2 linked regions of the Homo sapiens genome follow. The protein of the gene in region 1 purifies or fractionates together with the protein of each later gene. This does not show direct contact. Each region holds a gene or a part of one and is shown in the gene's direction. Other genes may lie near its edges.

Region 1 (10,840 bases):
TTCAGTCCCCCTCCTTCGACACATGAGCAAAGTGAGGCCCAGGAAGGTGAGGGCTTTTGGGTTTTCGTTTGCTTTGTCTCCTCCAAGATGTGGAACGTGGGGGTGAGATGGGGCGCATGTCCAGGGAGCACCAGGGTTAGGATCCCAGCTTGCCATATACCGGCCTAGGGCCCTTTCCACTGGCCACAAGTGCTGCTTCAAGCACATTCCTCTTAGAAGTCGACCATCTACCAGGAGCAGCTTCCTGCAAGAAGAAGGGAATAGGCAGATCTCTTTTTAGGACAGTTACACGGCCTGCACCACCTTGTCCTCTGGGTCACCTCCCCTAAGTGTGACCCTGGATTTCTGTTCCTCTCCTCTCACTGCGCTTTCCCCTCCTCCCTTTGTGCACTTTCCCCAAGTTAGAGAGACAGACTCTAGGAAGACTATTCTTGCTCCATTTCTGTCCTAAAGGCAAACCGAAATGATCAGACTTGTGATCATTTATAAATGGGCTGGTGCCTCTAGAACAGGGGTTATGCCAGGCTGAATTGAACAGATAAGCAGCCTTTGAAAAGGTCAGTTTCTCACCTATCACCCTCTGGGTGAATGTCCTTCTGGTGGCATGCCGAATCAGTCCATGCAAACTCTTAAAGTTTCCCCTTTTTGTGAATGGAAGAGGAATTCTCTACTCCCAGGCAGCTCATGGCAAGATGAGAAACTTACGTGAGTGTATCTAAGAATCTTGTGGGTGTTTAACTTCAAAGAAAGTTTCTACCAGTAAGACTTAGTTATTGTAAGGTGACAAGATAATATTTTGGAAAGAAAATTGACATAAAAACACTTTACTGTTGTCATTGAACTTTGTGACACCTCTTGTTCTAACTGCTTATCTCAACAAAGCTTTTTTCAAGTTCTGGTTGGAACTGTTACCCATATGTCTTACATTCTTGGATGACCTTAACAGACACATACAGCTGTCCCAAGACATCTCCTTACTTTCTTCAGGGACAGTGTGGGTCTTACACTGAAGCAAGGAGAAGTAGTTTCTTAGGCCTGTGCCTCACATCCTCTGGAGGGAGTTAGTGATCGAGTGTAGCAGTGGTTCTCAAACTAGTGGAGCCTTTTAGAGTTACAGAGATTCTATTTCGGTGGGTCTGAGATGGGGCTTGAGAATTAATTTTTTTTTTTTTTGGAGATAGGGTCTTACTCTGTCACCAAGGCTGTGGTGCATTGGCGTGATCACAGCTCACGGCGACCTCAACCTCCTGGGCTTACTCGATCCTTTCATCTAAGTCTCCTGAGTAGCTGGGACCACAGGCACACACCACCACACCCGACTAATTTAAAAATATTTTTTGCATTGATGAGGGGGTTTCCCCGTGTTGCCCAGGGTGGTCTCAAACTTTTGAGCTCAAGAGATCCTCCCACCTTGTCCTCCCAAGGTGCTGGGATTACAGGCATGAGCCACTGCACCCAGGAATTAAAGTTTTAAGTGTTACTCAGGTGATTCTAATTCCCAACCAGGATTGCGAATCACCAGCTGAAAGCAGAGGATAGAGAAGCTGAGTAATTTTTCAGTTTTCTTCTAAGTGAGGAAATTACACCATGGCCACTTACCTAATTTGAATAATTTGAGTTACCAAATTATTAGATATGCTTGCAGTGAGATATGAACATGGAACCTAAACAAATGCCTCTTTCAGTTATGCTAGTCATGCTCATCTCCATTGACAGGATTGAAATGATTTAGTAAGAAACTGAGGTTTGTCTGAGTGGAGCCAGTCCTCACCCTCGTTAACAAATCATCAAATGCAGCGAGGCCTTCTAATGTCTGTCCCTTCCCAGTTGGAAAGCATGAGCCTTAAGTGTTTATAGGCAAGAAAATACATGTGTATGTGTTTTAAGGGGAAAGGTCACTAGGGCCAAGGGGGTGCAATTACATTTTTAAAGAGTTAAAATATTTAATGTTAAGTTAAAATATTCCTGGGGAAAAATTAGCAAGTTTATGTTGGAGAAGATACTTGAAACAGAGCAGGGAGATGTTTTCTGTCCTTGATCTTCTCGGTCTGTTCTGTTTGAGGGTGGAGTTTCTATGTAGGGGTTGAGTTTCTTTTAAGAAAAACTGTTTTATTTGGAACTGAATTCTGAAATTTCAGAGGCCAGACCCTAAGGCTGACCACAGCCAAGGCATGTATTTTGTGGTGCTTCACTTGGAAGTCTTCTAAAGCTTCCTTCTCGTGGGCTGCGTGTGTGCAGTTTATTTCTGCAGTATACAAGCACATGGATACAGAACAGAATGAGGATTCTGGCATCTTAAGGGAAGGACTACTGCTAGTTCCAAAGCAGTATCTTCAGCTGTGCACCTAGAACAGGAAGAGGTAGAGAAGGGTGCCTTTGACCACAAGGCCAGGCTGTAGAATGCCCCAGAAAGCCTGTGCATCAGCATACTTTGGTCCCAGTTTGCAAAGTCATCTCACTAACCTGAGGATGTGTAAATGTGTTACCTGGTGTTTACATTTATCAGAGAAGGGCATTTTAAAAAACATTACACAATACTGTTTTATAGCTATCACATTATAAAGTCCTAGATTGGAATGATAATACGAGTTTTCCTACAAGTTGCTCATATCCACTCACCCTTCAGTTCCACTGTGCTCTTAATCAATGAGGGCCACTTGTGTTTCCTTCTTACCCTCAACCCTGTTTTTGTGTTAATTTCAAAAAAGAATATATCCCGCAGTGTGTGACCTTTGTTTTAGGGCATTCTCTGCCCACCCTGCTGCTTTTGCTCTCTGAATGACAGAGGAGTAAGACTGAAAGCAGGTTCTACTCCTGTGTAGGAAACTAAGACATAGTAAGTGGCTAAACAAGTTTAAAGCTCACACAGATTGTCATTAATGACTGAATACTTGATGCCCTGGAGAAAGCACTGGTTTCCTCGTTCAGATCGAGCCAAGAGTAGGGATTAGATGGCAGTTCTGTACAAAGCACTTGGGATCCAAAGGGCTAGATAACCCACACCCTCCCCTTGAGGAGTTTGTGCTCTGAATGGGAAGATAAGTCGTGAAAGCATGAAAAGTTAAATATAGATTTGATTAACAGTTCAAAATAACAAAATGGAGAACCTTCCCAGATTATGCTGTTGCCGATAGTGTTAGACTCTTGAGTCTTTCCCTGAAGTTCTCTCATCTTTCATTCACTGAATATTTATCCAGTGTCTTCCATGTGCCAGGCATGTACAAGACAGCAAGATCCCAGCCCTGGAAGAGCTCACAGACTTGTGGGAGGAAGTCAAATAATCAACAGATAACTGTATAACCCAATTATAACCCATTTTCCAGAAAAGAACACTTTCTTCATAAAGCCAATTTCGCCAGTGAGGTGTGGCGTAAGATATCACTTGGAAGGATTTTTTACTTGCCATCTTGACAAGTGTTTCTTAAAGATTTCTCTCACCATCTTGGCAAGCGTTCTACTTCTTGACTTGTAAGTGAGGATGATTCTTCAGTGAGCCATAGGAAATCCATTTGATAGGGCGAAACGGCATTTTAAAAATGCAGGTTTAAATTGTTATCCTCATCTATGGTTCTTCATAATTGATGGGGAAAATGGTACAGGCCCAGAGAAATGATATGCTTAGGAGGTAATAAAGCCTGTTGACCTTTGACACTGTTCCATTTTTCTCAGTTTCTAAGTGAAAATGATAACACATACACTTGGAAGCAAGGACTAACCAGAATTTAATCTTTTTCAGAAGCCAAGAAGAAAGCACCCTGTCCTGGACTTGGCTTGTTTTACACATTATTGTCTGCCTTCCTTTTCTCAGTGGGCTCTTTATTTGTTAAAAAAGTGCAAGACGTCCATGCTGTAGAGATTAGTGCGTTTCGATGTGTGTTCCAAATGCTAGTTGTTATCCCTTGCTTAATATACAGAAAGTAAGTATTTTTTAACTGCAAAGTAGAAGATATTAATAAATGTGTGTATATCTTTTCACCTGCCTATAATTACTCTATCTGCTTTATCCATCTCATATACTTACCAGTTCCTATGCCCCTTGGCTCTGCTTAATGAAAAGTCATAAGCATCTACCCACAGAAGATTCTACCATGAGCATAAACCACATACCCAACAAAGTGGGGAGAAAGAAATTTTGTTTTTCACCACCTCCCCTTTTGAAAACAGAGCTTTCTTTGTATAATTCCTCTTGTCTTGTATCACCCTCCCTTCTTTCCTTTGGCATAACTACTGTTTGGAAGTTAAAAAAATGAATGAAAAGAAGTAATAGTGTATCCTAGTATCAGAAGTTTTTTTAGAATGGGCTGCTTTCTTACCAGGGCAAATAGAAGATTATAGTAATAATATTTAGGTATTCCTCAAAAGGTGATGGGGTAACCCTGAGCAAGGTTACTTTCGTATTTAGTTTCCTCTTTTGTAAACTAGAGGGAATGATACTGTGTGACTTCTGCCCTACAAGGTGATTCCAAGGGTCAAATAAGATTTATTATAGGGTGGAGTGCCTTGTGTAGAGTGTAACAGTATATGAAAATTGTCTCTATTCCGCCCTCTCTGTTCTCTCCCAACCCAATTCCTCTTTTCCTTCCCTGTTGAACTCCCTACCCTCCCTGGGTTAAAATTATGCCTCCTTCAACCATTGTAACCTCCATATACCTCAGTGTATTTAGAACCCTGAGAGCGAGACCAGTTGGGTCCTTGGTGGCTGCCTGGCTCTTTGTCTCTTTGGGCAAAAAAGGCTACACCCCAAATGAAAAGCTTTAGTCACTTGTCACCAAAGTCTCCTTGTATCTCTAACATGGTGCGGATTCACTTAGAATAGTTTCACTCCATATCCTGATGATTTGGTGGGAAAAGTGAAAACCTGCTAATACCTGCAAATTTCTGTCAATGCGGACAAGTCACACTATTTTAAGAAATGATGGTAGGGCTTTAGAAATTTCTAAGGGTAGCAGCAGAACACCGATGCTAACATAATCATCTCCCCCATTTTGAAATAAAGATATTGTCAGGGGAAGGACACTGGAAGAATGTTGTTAAAATCCTTGGTCCTCATCTGTTTTGACCCATTTTATGTTTTATTATCATGGAAGACTCTTTGCTTCTCAAAGTATGGGCCAAATGTGACCGTGCTTTCATTTTAACTCCAAGATACCCGGGGTAGCCTAGATGATAATCTAATGAAGTCTAGCCCTGGCACACGTCAGCAAGTTGCACCTAGCCAGGAACCTACACAGAGTGGGTACTTAGTAAATATTTATTGAAAAAGAATTTGAATAGCAGTAATCATACTTTTCCAAACACTACATGTTCTTTTTCAGTGTGTTTTGACTCTTTCCTCATGAGAACAATGAAAACTTGTCTCATATTCAATGACTAAAATAAATTTTAGCAGTTTCAAGTTTTATAGAAAAATTCATGAGATTGAGAATGAGCATTAGCTGGGTCTAAGTTTCCTTACACAGGGCAGCTGAATCTTGACATTGTATTTATCATAAAAGTGATATGTTTATAGAAAATTTGGAGAAAATAAATATAAAGAAAGAAAATTACCTATGAGTTTATCTATTAAGATATAAACATGATTAACATTTAGTTTATTTTCCTTTTTGTCCTTTTTGCAAGCATATATATACATATACGTGGGATAAATATCTATATTAATTGAATTATAATTTTACTATGCATGTAATTCACTTGCACTGGTTTTGCTTTTACTGTGAACACTTTACTGTCATTAACTATACTTAGAAAATACTATTTTTAAAAAGTATATAATATTCATTTGTGGATATTATAATTAATTTACTATTCCCTCATTTTTTGATATTTAGTACTTTTAAAATAATGTTTAATTACAAATTGTAATTTAAAAACAAATATTAATTTCATTTAATATGCATTTCTTCATTTGAATTTACAGAACTGGGTTTATAGGCCCAAAAGGTCAACGAATTTTCCTCATTCTCAGAGGAGTCCTTGGTTCTACCGCCATGATGCTTATATACTATGCTTACCAGACAATGTCCCTCGCTGATGCCACAGTTATCACGTTTAGCAGTCCAGTGTTTACGTCCATATTTGCTTGGATATGTCTCAAGGAAAAATATAGCCCTTGGGATGCTCTTTTCACCGTGTTCACAATCACTGGAGTGATCCTTATCGTGAGACCACCATTTTTGTTTGGTTCCGACACTTCGGGGATGGAAGAAAGCTATTCAGGCCACCTTAAGGGAACATTCGCAGCAATTGGAAGTGCCGTATTTGCTGCATCGACTCTAGTTATCCTAAGAAAAATGGGAAAATCTGTGGACTACTTTCTGAGCATTTGGTATTATGTAGTACTTGGCCTCGTTGAAAGTGTCATCATCCTCTCTGTATTAGGAGAGTGGAGTCTGCCTTACTGTGGGTTGGACAGGCTATTTCTCATATTCATTGGGCTCTTTGGTTTGGGGGGTCAGATATTTATCACAAAAGCACTTCAAATAGAAAAAGCAGGGCCAGTAGCAATAATGAAGACAATGGATGTGGTCTTTGCTTTTATCTTTCAGATTATTTTCTTTAATAATGTGCCAACGTGGTGGACAGTGGGTGGTGCTCTCTGCGTAGTAGCCAGTAATGTTGGAGCGGCCATTCGTAAATGGTACCAAAGTTCCAAATGAAGCATCATTGCTGAAATACATATTTTTTTCAAGTACACCATCACCTAATTCACATACAGCATACGCACACATCTGGAAAATCTGCATTTTCTTCATTGGTTGTATTTAATAAATTGCCTAAAGTACCATTTTTGAATATAGTATGTCTTTAGTTAAGAATAGCTAGTCTGTTTGGTGTAACAATTTTTTGGTAGCTTTGGTTTTGGTTTTGGTTTTTTTTGTTGTTGTTGTTGGGGTCAAGTTGGTGAGAGGAGAGCTCATTGTTTGAAGAAAAACCAAAACATTTTATGGCTAGTAATATTTATGTAATTTTTAAAATGTATTTTTGGTACTGATGGGATATGGGTGGGGAGGCTATTTTAGATATTCTTTTAGCAGTGTAGAGCCTAAGAAACTTGGTTCTACTACCATGATCTTTATAAACTATGCCTTCCAGACAATTGATAATGCTGCTATAATTAGTATTATGTTGATAATTCATTTGCAACCTTATTCTATTTAGGAGGATGAAGTTGAAGCTTAGAATAGGTGCCTGCTTAATGGTGTTAATAATACAAATGAATTGGCCTTATTTTCAAGGATTTTATAAATGATTATCATACTTGTAACTCATATTTGTGCCTTTTCATTTTAATGCTGGAATTTTTATTATGTCACCTCTAAAACACTTAAATTGCCAAATTTGGCTAGTAGTTTTGTTTCAGTGGCATTAGCAACTGCAGCTAGCATACTATAATTTTAATTGTCCTCACTTTTTTTTGAAACTGCACTAAATTTTTCTTAACATTCCAAGATTTCAGATCTCTAAATCACAAAGAGAAATCTTGGCATGACCAGTGTGCACGTTTCCATCCTGAAGTGTTTTCTCTTCACTAGAAATGTGATTTTCTATAAATTCCCCTTGAATTTATAGTGTGATGCCAAATAAAATTTTCTCAGGATCTTATTAGGTTGAACCATATGTAATTGCCAAGATTTTACTATTTTAACTTAGAAAAACCATCGTTTCATATGATTCACCCTAATAGATACCTCCATTATTCTCTAAATGAAATAGAAGACTTTGGAGTATATGTTTTTAAAGTAATTTTTTAAAATATGGTAATGTATTAAACTTATTTTTATAGTTATGAAATTATGTGTAATAATGCTTTATGTTATACATTAAATGTAAAGACTTGTGAATCCATGTTTGATTGACTTTCATAGTTTCCTGCATTGAAATAAAATCACTATGAATTCTAGTTTATCAGCATGATGTTAAATGTCAGTGCCATACCATGATGCAGCACCATGACACTAACGCCATGAATTCAAACAGCACGTTTTACACCTGGAACTTCATCAGACCAATACTTTGCAGTTAGAGAGAATTTAATATCTAGAAAAGCTTGGGAGGTTAGTCAGGACTTAGGGAGTATACATAAATGGTTACTTGTTGTAATGAGCCCTTTATTGGTGAGGTTGCAATAGCTTCCAGCTCTTACTGTGTCAGATGAAGCATCTGTCATTATCTTAAGCCTGCAGAGTTGAAAGGTTATAGGCTCTTTCCTACCCTCTCATCATAATTTTTCCAAAGCAAAGAGGAACTTGGCTTCTGGGGTTCGTGCCTTAGTGAGAAAGAATCTTTTCCAATAGTTCCAATGGGGGAATTTTTGGCTTGCTGATTTTATCAATTGCCTTGACACCTGACAAACCCTAAATGAAGTCTATGTAGGTGAGTCATCTCTGTTCCACCTGATTTACAGTATTGGAATTTAGACTTGCAAAAACATCATTCTGCAAATATCTTAGATAATTACAGAATCAGGAGCATTTGAGAACTCTAGAGGTCTCAGAAATCATCACATAGGGGCCATGCTTCGTAGATAGGGATGATAGAGAGGAGACCTGCCCAAGTTGAATTTCCATGGCCTTCCTCCCTTCCTTAGTTCCATGATAAAGTATGGACAGTAAACCACTACTTGAGCTACCTAAGGTGAATTAACTCTCAGGGAACCCTCTTCCAGTTCTTTACCTTGCACAGTGAAAGAATCAGTGGCACCTAGAAAGTTAAATCCCTTTAGGCCCATACACTAGAGACATGTTTTGTTTGAACAATGTAGTTTAAGTACTTGAATGTCACACTATATAACTGAGGTTAGAGAAAATGTTTCTTCTAGCCCTTACAGGGTGTGATTCTTAAACACAATGTCCAAGGTGTATACAAGGATATGTATTGTAACAACTATGGGTATGTATATTTTGCAGAGCGTAGTTTCTATATCTTGAAAAGGAAAATATTTTCATAAATTGTTTTTATAAGTACTAATAAAATAATATGAAAGAAAGCTATATGTTGGTTGTTATGATTATAGCAAATATATAACTTATTTCCCTTTCAACCCTATGCTTCAAAATATATTTTCTGTAGGAGATTGACCTCTAGCCATTCAGCTGGGATATAATCTCAAAGTTTAAACTGTCTGACCCACTTGTACTATCAAGAGGGTCAGATGAACAGTGTAATCTGTTTATCTCTCCAAAATAAAGGCATTAGTCTTCTGTGTTAGTGAGACCTTCATTCTTCTAGATCCTGAGAACTTAAAGTAGCTTTGAACTCTGTACTTTTTGTTCCTGTAGCTAATCCGTTACTAAATCCTGAAGAGTCTTTCTTCTTATTGTCTTCTTATTGTCTTGTGGATTTATTCTTTCCTCACCATTTCCACTGCCACCATCTTAGCCCAAGACTTAGCACCTTACACCTGAATTACCACAACAGTTTACTGGTTACCTGCTTCAAGACTCTTTCTTCCACTCTGATTCCTGTCTCAGTGCCAGCTTAATGTTCCTAAAGCCCTGTTTTCACTGTTACTCTAGTTCTCATGAAACCACAGTGATGCCTTATTACACACCATATCACATCAAATTTTCATCTGGCCCTACTCCCACTTCTCCGACCTGATTTCTACATCCCAACACAAATGGGATACTCAGATCAGTCTTACCACTAGCTCCCATGTTTGCCAGTAGAGTCCTTCCTCTGCATTTCCCCCCTGTCCTTACCTTCTCTTATTTACCCTCTAAGGCCTGTTAGCCTCCAATGGCTCAGCTTAGGCTTTTGTTTCTTCTGGACTCTAGCTTCTCCTACCCACATAATCCATCTTGGAAGAGTGGGTAAAGCACTGGATTGGGATCTGAAGGTCTAGTGTGGTTTTATCACTTTTCAGCTGGACAAATCACCTAATGCACCTGAGCCTGTTTTCCTCACTTGCCCAGTCCCTCTTGCAAATGAGTGCCATAGAAGGGCTTATAGACTATTAAGAAGGATGAAAACATTAAGTATTGAACTGTGGTTAAGACTGTAGAATTGAGTATTCACTCTCCTCTTCAAAATGAGGCGTATACCAGAGTCCTTACTCCCGAGCAGCCTCACCAGGAACCGTAGGAACATGCCTATCAGAATGCAAACTCCATTCGGCCCCCTCCTGCTAGCACAGAATTGTGCTGTTGGCCAGCTTTCACTTCCTAGCTGATCTTCCCATATAGGGCTGCCAAGGATCACCAGTCCTTTCATGCGCAGGTGTTACCACCTTTCCAGTTCTGGCCCTAGCTCTGATCTTATATGGGTATTATGCTTGGCTCTGACCTGGGGAATGGGCCTGATTTATGTGTGTTTCCCATGCACTGTGTACTCAGCATGGTTCTTTTAGCCTCTTACGTATTGCACTCGGTAAGCATATTTACTCTCTTGAGGGCATTCTAGTGGGAAGAGAGCCAGATGTTCTTGATATCACCCTGGTCTCTGATCTAGGTGTGTATGGATCCATGGTCAATAATGGGCATTAGAATTTGGTTATATGGGTGAAGGTTGGATATATGAATCCTGGACACTACCCTAAGCATGCTGTTTTATGCCCCGTTTGGTGCCTTATATCAGATCTAATACAGCTACCATATTCACCTAGAATTCTGCAAGATAACCTATCAGGGACTCTGATCCACATTGATGGATCCACGGTTTAGCCTCTTTGAACATTAAGTTTGGAGCTGGACCTGGGAAAACAATTCACAGCCCATGAACCTTGGCACTTCTCATCTCCTGGAAATTCAGGGGTGGGCTTTATAGCAAGAGGGTAAGGAGAAGACATACTTGGTATCAAGGGAGGGCAGTAAATGTAGCAGAGATGCCCAGTACACAGGAA
Region 2 (10,840 bases), on another chromosome or scaffold:
CTAGAACTATCAGGAAACTGAAATTTTTAACCTAAATTTTGCAGCAGACTCATTTGATTGCAAAATTTGTTCTGAACTGATGTGAGGCTGTTATTTGTCCTACTTAGTGTGAATATTCATAGCCATTGTGGAGATTTTAATGTGATTTTTATGGGGTGCTAAGCTCTTTTGGGAAAATTGAGATATAAGGTTATGTGTCTCATTATCTTTCCAAACTATGAGAGACTGAATTCCGAATCACAGTCTGGCCCTAAGGTTTTCAGATGAGAGATTGTTTTTGTGTACAAATGTTTATTTGCATAATTTGTCCCCCTGATATTTTGCTGCTAAAATGGAAATTTAGAAGATCTACCATGGTGGCAGCCTTTCAACAGGAGTGAGAGAGATGAGGAAAGGAAATTATGGGTAAATTTCCCTCAATCAAAAGCAGGGAATCCAAAGATCCCCCGCCCTACCCCATCCCAAATTTAAATGGTTGGCAGCTGCATTGGTAGGAGCTTCTGAAGACATGTGAAGCATAGCTGAAGAGGTCTATGGAATAATTAAGTGCTCTTCCTTTTGCTGTAGGCAAACAGGCTCATTCCCTTTAGGAACATAGGATCACTCACTGCTGCTCTTGAGCATTTAGCAGGATTCTTATTGCTATTTACATTCTGACAGCTGACCAGAAAGGCAGTTATGTAAAATGAATTTTAAAATAAAAAAAGCTTTCTTCCCAAAACTTGAATGTAAGACAGATACAATGGGCTTTAAATAAATACAGGTAAATATAATCAAACAAATACACAATACAATGGCTTGTTGGTTAGTGTTTTTTAAGCTCTTCATGGTTTTAGGCCCAGTTATACCACTTTTTTTTTTTTTAAATGATAACATCAAAAGTCTAAATTTAGTTCAAAAACAGGCTGGCCATGATGGCTCACGCCTGTAATCCCAGCACTTTGGGAGGCTGAGGCGGGCGGATCACATAAGGTCAGGTGTTCAAGAACAGCCTGGCCAACATGGCAAAACCCCATCTCTACTTTAAAAAAAAACATACAAAAATTAGCTGGATGTGGTGGTCGCGCCTGTAATCCCAACTACTTGGAAGTCTGAGGCATGAGAATCACTTGAACCCAGGAGGCGCAGGCTGCAGTGAGCCAAGATGGCACCACTGCACTCCAGCCTAGGTGACAGAGCGAGACTCTGTCTGAAATAAATAAATTAATTTAGTTTAAAAACATAGAGAAACTGTAAGTGCTTGGTAGCTTGGACTTGAAACTACTCTTGTTAAAGCTTGAATTTACTTTGGTTTTGCATTTGTACAGTTAAAACTTAGACAAACGTATTGTCTTAGAGTTTTTTTTTTAGTTACAAGAAATCGCTGTTGATAATTTCTTTCTAAATGTATCTCCTATTTTCAGGCAGATATAGCATTTTAGAGCATACTTTCTTGATTTGTTGATCTATAGATAAAGTGTGTGTTCTGCTTGTACATTTGGCCCTTTGTATCCATGGATTCTGCATCCGCAGAATCAACCAACTGTGGATCGCAAATATTCGGGACAAAAAATATGGATGGTTGCATCTGTAGTGAACATGTGCAGACTTTTTCTTGTCATGATTCCCTAAATAATATAGTGTAACAATTATCTACATAGCAAGTTTTGGTCGAAGGAGAGAATCCTTGTCACATGAAATTATTCTTGCCAAAAATTAGTTAACCATGTATAGAGATACTGCTGTCATCAAAGACTGAATCTCATGGTGTAATCCAATAATCAAATACATCTATGGTAGTAAAACCTAAGGTAATTAAAATACTTTTATTTAAATTTTATTTGGATTAATGCGGGACTCCAAATATTGAGACTGTGTTCAGTATTCCAGTCCCGGAACATTAGAAGTGAAGAGTTGCTGTCTCCTAAAAATTCACAGCACATGGAAATAATTACAGGACAGTGACAAGTGTCTCAGGCAGAAGTCCTTGACTCTGCCTGTAGAGACTGGGAAGGGTTTTCTGGAAGAGGTGCCAGTTTAGCTGAGGGAAGGAGAGGAACCAAGAGGCCCTCATTCATCAGCGAATTATGTACAAGTTTTTCAATCTAACTAGAAGAGGTTGCGGTGCTGTAATGAGATACGAAGCTAGAAGAATTCACAGGGGGCCACATTAAAAAGGCCTTGAATGCCATGATAAGGAATTTTTTTTCTCTTATCCTGTAGATGAACATTTGCCAAGCCTACTTCTGATGATGTAAGTTTAGAGACACACTATGCGATATCATATGACTCCTAGAAGCTCATTTTTAAAAAGCAGTTTAACGTTTTGTGATTGAAAGTTTTCCAGACTTGTTTCATCATAGAACTAGTTTTTATTTGAATACCAATTAACACCATAGAGTTACTTTTAGAAATGTTAAGGATTTTGAGCAAGGGAATGGTGAGATTTGCATTTGTATAATATGGGTATGATGAGAATCAAGAAATCCCATTGAGTTTAAGTGTGTTAAATATATGGGACATTGGCCAGGCATGGTGGCTCACACCTGTAATCCCAGCACTTTGGGAGGCCGAGGCGGGTGGATCTCTTGAGGTCAGGAATTCAAGACCAGTCTCGCCAACATGGTATATTAAAATCCTGTCTCTACTAAAAATACAAAATAGTGGGTGTGGTGATGTGTGACTGTAATCTTAGCTACTCCGGAGGCTGAGGCAGGAGAATGGCGTGAACCCGGAAGGCAGAGCTTGCAGTGAGCTGAGATCGCACCACTGCACTCCAGCCTGGGCAACAGAGCGAGACTCTATCTCAAAAAAAAAAAAAAAAAAAGTGGGACATTAAAAGTAAAATATTCACATTGGGAGCTGGAGACTAAGATTCTAAAATAAGATTGTTTCTTCATTGAGTATTTTGAGAAAGGTTTCATCTGAACTTCATGTTTATCAAAACAATGTATGCGTAGCATTTAAAAGGTCAAGTAGTTCTATAAGACTTAATAGCAAGTTCCCTGCCACATACCAAATTTTTGGCTCCCAAAGGAAACTGTTTTAGCTGCTTCTTTTACTTAGTTATGTACCTTTATATCTCTGAATCACATAATTCTGGTGCTTTTTGATTTTTTTAATATAAGGCTTTAACTACTGACTTTCATTAATGAAGGTGAGGACTTAGTGCTTTCACAAGCATATAGACCACATTCACCGCATATACCTTCATGCTCACTACCTATCCCATCATCTGCCAGCAGAGTTATATCATAATTTAGATTTGATCAATATTCAGTCCTTACTGTGACTTACTGTGACTGTAAATGCTGTTTCAACCTGATCTGTGTGGTCTACTGTAATTACTTTTCCTTCCTTACACAGCTTTTTATGTTCCCTATAATTTGTTGTCTTTTACTTGCTTTCTTTTAATTTTTATTTGGTTTGTTTGAATTTTTTTGGCTTAGTTTTTCTATGTACTTAACTAATTCATCCCCAAATTCTCTGTTTCATACATCAGAGACCTTTAGCACTCTTACCAATTTTAGTGTCTAAGAGATACGTCTCTCAGCATCTTTCAACATGCTTTAATCTGCACTCGCTGTTTGCTAGCCTTGCTGCACAGCTGTCTTCTTGGTCTCCATACCTGAGGATTTTCTTTATTCTCCTTTGTGTTGGATCTTGTACTTCATGAATTCAGTGGCATCATCTTCTTTGGTTTATTCCCTTATCTGGTGGAGTCATCTTCTCCAGCTGCTTCCTGAGAAAGGGTTTGTCTTTGTCCATTTTGTATTGTGATAACAGAATATCTAAGACTTAATAATTCATGAACAATAAAAGTTTATTTGACTTGAGGTTCTGGAAGTGAGTAAATCCAAGAGCCAGGGTGCCAGCATCTGGTGAGGACCTTCATGCTGTGTCATGTCATGGGAGAAGGGCAAGAGAACACCGCAAGTGAGCACAAAAGCAAGAGGGGGTCAAACTCACCTTTATAATGATGTCACTCTTGATAATGAAACCACTCCCAAAATAATGATATTAATCCATACATGAGGGCAGAGCCTTCATCATATCACCTCTGAGTTTCCATGTCTGCACTTGGTTGATTAGAGATTATGTTTCCAACACATGAATTTGGGGAACACTTTCAGCTCGTGGCAAGGTTCGTGAGGTTAAGCTTTTTGATAATTTTTTAGTGAATCCTACTCCCTTCTAATTACTGCCTTGTCTCTCTGCAAAGATAACCAGTATCCTGAAGATTATTCCTTTTGCCTGTTTTTGAACTTTGTACAGAAGAGTCATACATTATGTGTTGAGTTCATCTTCTTTATTCAGCATTATGTTTGTCAGATCATTTATGTTAATATAGTTGTAGTTCACTCATTTTATTAATCCACAATTTATTAATTACCCCATTCTCCTGTTGATGACATTGTTATTAGTTTGAAGCTTCTAAATGCGTCTTCAGTAGACTTTCAAGAGATCTTCCTTTTTTTATTCCTACCTTCACCCCTACTTCCAGTGCCACGTAAATCTGCCAAGTCTGGAGCTGACAGGGGGGTTCTGTTGTTGGGGGGAAAGGGGGCTACTTCTACTTTCTCTACACTTGGATTAGGATTCAGCTTTCTTGTGTCTGCTGAGTTACTTACCATTTGGCTGTCTGCTTTCTAGCCTCTAAGGTTTTATGGGTTTTTTGTTTGTTTGTTTGTTTTTTGGTAGAATCTCCTTTTCCTCTAACTTTGTCTTCATAGAGTTTGTTTGCTTTTTATTAACAGATACCTTTTTGTGTGGCTTTTGGAAGGAACTTGGGTAATGTCTTTGTTCATTCCTCCATTTTTAACCCAACTTGAACCTTATTTTTAATACTTCATTCTTTGTTTGATTTCTGCTAAACCAGAATGTCTTTCCTAGTAATATCTTAGAATAACTCTGTTACCTTCTTTTAGTGTAAATTTAAGTAATATTTATTAGGTATAATGGTAAACTTTTTGTTTATTAAGTGTGTATTTTTTGACTATTTGAAAGTTATACTTAAAACATTTAGTCTAATTCACAAAATTTTTTTTAACAGGGTATTGCTGGAACTGATGTAGCTAAAGAAGCATCCGATATTATTCTCACAGATGACAACTTTACAAGCATTGTTAAAGCAGTTATGTGGGGACGAAATGTCTATGACAGCATCTCAAAATTCCTTCAGTTCCAACTTACTGTTAATGTAGTAGCAGTGATTGTTGCTTTTACGGGCGCCTGCATTACTCAAGTAGGTGATGACTTGTCTATCAAAACTTGTTTACTTTAAATTTAAAAAGTATATTAAATGCCTCTTAAAAAATACTTAATATTTAAGCTGAAGCTTAATATTTTAGGTTAGTTAATATAAAAATATAATCCTGTTCTGTTTCTCAAGTTTTTAAACCCTAAAGGTTTCCTGAGAATTGCTGAGCCCCTGAGTAGTTGTGAATGTCTATTAGGAAACATATCTTTTCTAGGACTCACCGCTTAAGGCTGTGCAGATGCTGTGGGTAAACCTCATAATGGATACACTCGCTTCCCTGGCTCTGGCAACGGAACCACCCACTGAGTCTCTCTTGCTTCGGAAACCTTATGGTAGAAATAAGCCTCTCATCTCACGTACAATGATGAAGAATATTTTGGGTCATGCATTCTATCAACTTGTAGTAGTCTTTACACTCTTATTTGCTGGTAAGAATTCAGTGTCTAATAAAGCTTCAGTTAATTGTTTCTTTTCCAAGCTAATCATCCAAGATGTTATAATGTTACAAATTTTCAAGAGCCTAAATTCTACTCCTGACTTCCCATTTATCTTTAATTTCTTCTTAATCAGTGAGTGCTTAGTAAATTTGGGAGGACAATAAGCTAGATAGTAGAATAAACAGGAGAATAAACAGTCCTGATGTCTTACCCTGGCTCTCCACTAATTTAGATATGTGATCCTGAGATTATCACCATAGTTTTGGGAGCTTCTGTTTCCTTGCCTATAAAACAAGAGAGTTGTACTAGATAATCCCAGGTTTCTCTAGCTCCTTCCATGCTGCCATTTCAGATCAAATAAAAGGTCTAGCTAAGTTGTAATTTGTATACCTCCTTGAAATCTAATTTGGTATGATAATTACAAAATAGTCATTTTTCATTCTTTCAGGAGAAAAGTTTTTTGACATTGATAGTGGAAGAAATGCTCCTTTGCATGCTCCTCCTTCAGAACATTATACTATTGTTTTTAATACCTTTGTGCTGATGCAACTTTTCAACGAAATAAATGCCCGGAAAATTCATGGTGAAAGAAATGTATTCGAAGGAATCTTTAACAATGCCATCTTCTGCACAATTGTTTTAGGCACTTTTGTGGTACAGGTGGGTAATTGGAAAAGATAGTTTCAAATTTGCCTGTTAAATGGGAGACATTAGGTAAACAGCTTGTTCTAGCAATCACTTGTGTGGAACATGTGTGGAACTGTTGCCTTGGTGACATATATAATATCATGGTGATTTAAGGTATATGTTAAAGAATATGGGAACTGAATCTCCTGTTCTTAGAAGTAAATGCCACAACCAACTAGACAAACAGTTTTATTTCTTCCAACTGTAAAGTGAAAGATATTATTTCTTAGGAAACAAAGTCAGCCAATCAATTAATTGTTTCCCAGCATTTTAGTATTCTTTTTACATCCCACATTATACCAAAAAAAAGATCAGGTTTAAATTTTAAAAAAAATTAAGATCACTTGTACAAATACATATTGAATTCTTCATGCTCATTATTTTCTTGATTTATAAAAGAAAATTACTTCAGTTTTATATCTCTACTAAAATCCAGACCTGATTGTCAAATCAGTTGTAATCTAATTGGGCTACTAACAAAGCAGTTGGAAATCTATCTGTACAAGTGCACAAATTAACTTAAAAAATAGTGGAACCGAGAAGTGAAAATGACTTGAATTTGAATAAAGTAGAGCTAAAAAGAAAGGAATTGTAACTTTAAGGTTTTAAAATGTTAACTACCAAAATTATTTTTGATTTTAATATTTGGGAACTAGTTAACTGCCATATCAAAGAGAGGCCTGTCAGACTCACAGGAGGGTGAATATTGTTAATTGATTCTTTTTTTAAAAAATTATTTATTTTTTAATTAAGACAGGGTCTTGCTATGTTGCCTAGGCTGGTCTTGAACTCCTGGGCTCAAGCAGTCCTCTCACCTCAGCCTCCAAAAGTGCTAGAATTACAGGTATGAGTCACCACACCCAACCCCAGTTAATTCTTAATATTTCCATGCACACTATTTTAGGCCTTTTAGAATAACAAGCAAAACATAAGCACTGTATTATGAATTTATATTCATCATCAGACCTCACTCTTTTCATAAAGGAGAGCAAATCTGAGATCACCTCACCTGAGTTAGCCCATATTTCATAGAACTTTCCAAGTTGCCTTTCTTCTCATATAGTCTGTGTTTATCTTAGTATGTCTAAATGTTAACTAGAAATAAACAGCTATGTGGAATTTTTTTAATATTGTGCATTTTTCCAGTAACATACAGTCTTTTCTACAAAAGAGTACTATATTTTGAGAAAGGCACAGATTATTTGAAGAGTTGTACTAAATACAGGGGAATGTAGTTGCTTGGGGTTATATTGGAAACAGTATAAAATTATTATTCTTGGTCATAAGAATTTTACTTTTTAGTAAGCGTAATTTAAACATGAAATACGCATGCATCAAAAATATTGGGCAGAGATTTTACTTTATTTCAGTTGTCTTTTTTTCTAAGAGGCAAAGTGGACTGGAGGGGAAAGAGGAAAGGTCTATTTCAGTTGTCTTATTTTCAGTTGTGACTAATATAATACAATTCATCAGAATAGTGGTTGTTCACCTTGTTTTAGAGGACATAAATTTGATATTTTTTTAAGTATATGAATTTTAAAATTTAAGATTTAAGTAAATTTACTCTTGATTATTCCTCCAGATAATAATTGTGCAGTTTGGTGGAAAACCTTTCAGTTGTTCAGAACTTTCAATAGAACAGTGGCTATGGTCAATATTCCTAGGAATGGGAACATTACTCTGGGGCCAGGTAAAAATTTCATCAGTTTTTGTTTAAACCTAAAGTGATTTTTTTTTTTAATTTCTAGTGTGTATTTTCTTTAACAGTTTCATTACTTGATTCTAAATGGTTAATGTGGTGAGTAAAGAGAGGGCATTCAAAGATAAGTTTTTTTAATGTCGTATTAGTTCCAGTATGTCACTTGTTCATTATGATTATGCCTGTACTATAAAATACTATCCTAACTTTTTATGTGTTTTTTTAACTTGTTTTTTAGAAGTTTTGTAGCGGTTTTTAAAAATGATGTATTTATAACTGGTTAGGATGCTAATATCTGTATCTTTTACTCTATAACCTATTTTTACATTTTCAGAAAAAAATTTTTTACAACAATGTAAAAAATACATGGCCGGGTGCGGTGGCTCACGCCTGTAATCCCAGCACTTTGGGAGGCCGAGGCGGGTGGATCACCTGAGGTAAGGAGTTAGAGACCAGCCTGGCCAACATGGTGAAACCCCGTCTCTACTAAAAGTATAAAAATTAGCTGGGCATGGTGGCAGGCGCCTGTAATCCCAGCTACTTGGGAGGCTGAGGCAGGAGAATCGCTTGAACCCAGGAGGCAGAGGTTGCAGTGAGCCAAGATCGCGCCATTGCACTCTAGCCAGGGAGAGAAGAGCGAGACTTCATCTCAAAAAAAAAAAAAAAAATACATTGTCATTTTGTTCTGTAATTTAATCCAATATGCAGCATAGGAAAAACTGACCTTAGAGAATGTTTTTATAAAAATAATGTTACCTGGAAAAAGGGGTCACAAAATGATGTTTTAGATTTGAATTGAATAGCTTTAACAGTGTATATATGAAATAAAGTGCCTGAAATAAGAGATATACCTCATATTTACTATAGGCAGCTTACTTGCAAATGCATGTCATTATTTTTTAAATGTGACAGTGATTTATGCATTGTTCATTTTAAGCCCATTACTATAAAACTAATTTATAGAAAATCTAACATTTTCATAGATGAAGGTTAATATATATTATGGCATATAATTTGCATGAGCTAATTTATTGTCATTCTGCAAATCAGTGAAACCAGACTTTCAGGTTTTCCTTAAATGTAGCCCAATCTTTACATCTTTGTGTCTCTTCTTTTTCTTAACTATGTTTCTAGATTCTGAGGTTTCTTATCTATTTTGAGTACCTCATTAATAGAGATCATCTTTTAAGTAAGACCCATACTAAGTGTACCATGGTAGAACAAGCACTGCCTTTGGTGGTCAGGAGACCTAGGTTCCTAGTCACTCCATGAGCAAGTCACTTTATGTGCCTTGAAGCCTATTTCACCTTGGTGAAATGAGGTGGGTGTACTAGAAGTTCTCCAAGCAGAATTCTGTAGCTGACTACATGCTTGTTTCTCCCTGATAAACCCAACTGCTGCCTTAGAGAATGGATGTTAACACATAAGCTAATATACGTGTATTGGTGTTTCTTGTATCCTTTGTGTTTTCTAGGGCATCTGTTTTTGTTTGGCGTCATCAATCAGTACTAATCCAATTTTAAACTGTTGCATTTTAAAAAAAATATGTAACAAAACTATTTTCAGTGTAACCTTAATGATTTTTTTAAAAATTTTATACATTTTTTCTCATTGAACTCTGACAGCATTAATGAAATGTAAACGTGTTTTGCATCTAGTAAGACCACCTGCCATTTTCATTGTATTCAAAATAAATAGGACTTTTTAAGTAAATACATATATCAGAGCATGGTTTTACAATGTACTGTCTTGAATGTCCTGATGAAAATATGAAAAATGTAATCAGGTTAATTTCCATTTAGGAAAACTTTTTATCCTTCAAACTCAAATCTTTTGTGTAGCTAAGAGAAGAATGTATTTTGCTCTGGGAGAGAAAGACTAATCAACAGGATCCCATTACTTCATTGGTAAAGATAGTCGGATACTCTCACCACTTTTAATACCTTTAGTATTACAGTTGATCAGCTTACCTTTACTTGATATGATTTATTTCTAAGTTCATTCCCCTGTGTTGTAGCTTATTTCAACAATTCCAACTAGCCGTTTAAAATTCCTCAAAGAAGCTGGTCATGGAACACAAAAGGAAGAAATACCTGAGGAGGAATTAGCAGAGGATGTTGAAGAGATTGATCACGCTGAAAGGGAGTTGCGGCGTGGCCAAATCTTGTGGTTTAGAGGTCTGAACAGAATCCAAACACAGGTATGGGCCTGGTAGAGAGGTAGGAGAGATGATGGGAGCCAGGGCTTTTTGACCTGGGGAGGAGGTTCGAGTGTGCTCCTTAAACTTCCTCTCTAGCCTTCCCAACCCACAAATTGTATTCTCTTGAAAAGTAATACTGGTGCCTGGAATGAGTGAGACTTTTAACTGATTATGAAAGAATGTGTCTATATGCCCCTAAGCTCCTTTTTTCCTAGCTCCCCCATCCCCCACTTCATCTCAAAATGCTATTCTTGCCTATATGCTGTGTAAAAAGTGCCTTTTTCTTTTTATATGTTGATAGATGGAATGGTCCTTTCTCTTGTTCTCTCTCTCTCTTGCTGAGCAAGCTGTCACAATCTCTGATTCCTTGCAGATGGATGTAGTGAATGCTTTCCAGAGTGGAAGTTCCATTCAGGGGGCTCTAAGGCGGCAACCCTCCATCGCCAGCCAGCATCATGATGTAACAAATATTTCTACCCCTACACATGTAGTGTTTTCCTCTTCTACTGCTTCTACTACTGTGGGGTGTGAGTGTGTGTTCCTAAGTGCATGAAATTAACATTTCCTACTTCACACAC

What was found.
Region 2: the proteins of SLC35G1 (region 1) and ATP2B1 purify together in Homo sapiens (co-immunoprecipitation; 2 studies listed by BioGRID and IntAct, with this or other methods). This does not show direct contact.

The regions. Positions count from the first base shown.
Region 1 is NC_000010.11:93,894,835-93,905,674, forward strand, and holds the end of SLC35G1 (solute carrier family 35 member G1), read left to right. Parts: intron 1-3,736; coding exon 3,737-3,917; intron 3,918-5,917; coding exon 5,918-6,656; 3' UTR 6,657-8,990; downstream 8,991-10,840. UniProt on the Homo sapiens protein: May play a role in intracellular calcium sensing and homeostasis. May act as a negative regulator of plasma membrane calcium-transporting ATPases preventing calcium efflux from the cell.
Region 2 is NC_000012.12:89,598,539-89,609,378, reverse strand, and holds part of ATP2B1 (plasma membrane calcium-transporting ATPase 1), read left to right. Parts: intron 1-5,032; coding exon 5,033-5,224; intron 5,225-5,453; coding exon 5,454-5,667; intron 5,668-6,124; coding exon 6,125-6,336; intron 6,337-7,945; coding exon 7,946-8,053; intron 8,054-10,079; coding exon 10,080-10,262; intron 10,263-10,635; coding exon of another isoform or gene 10,636-10,789; intron 10,790-10,840. UniProt on the Homo sapiens protein: Catalyzes the hydrolysis of ATP coupled with the transport of calcium from the cytoplasm to the extracellular space thereby maintaining intracellular calcium homeostasis.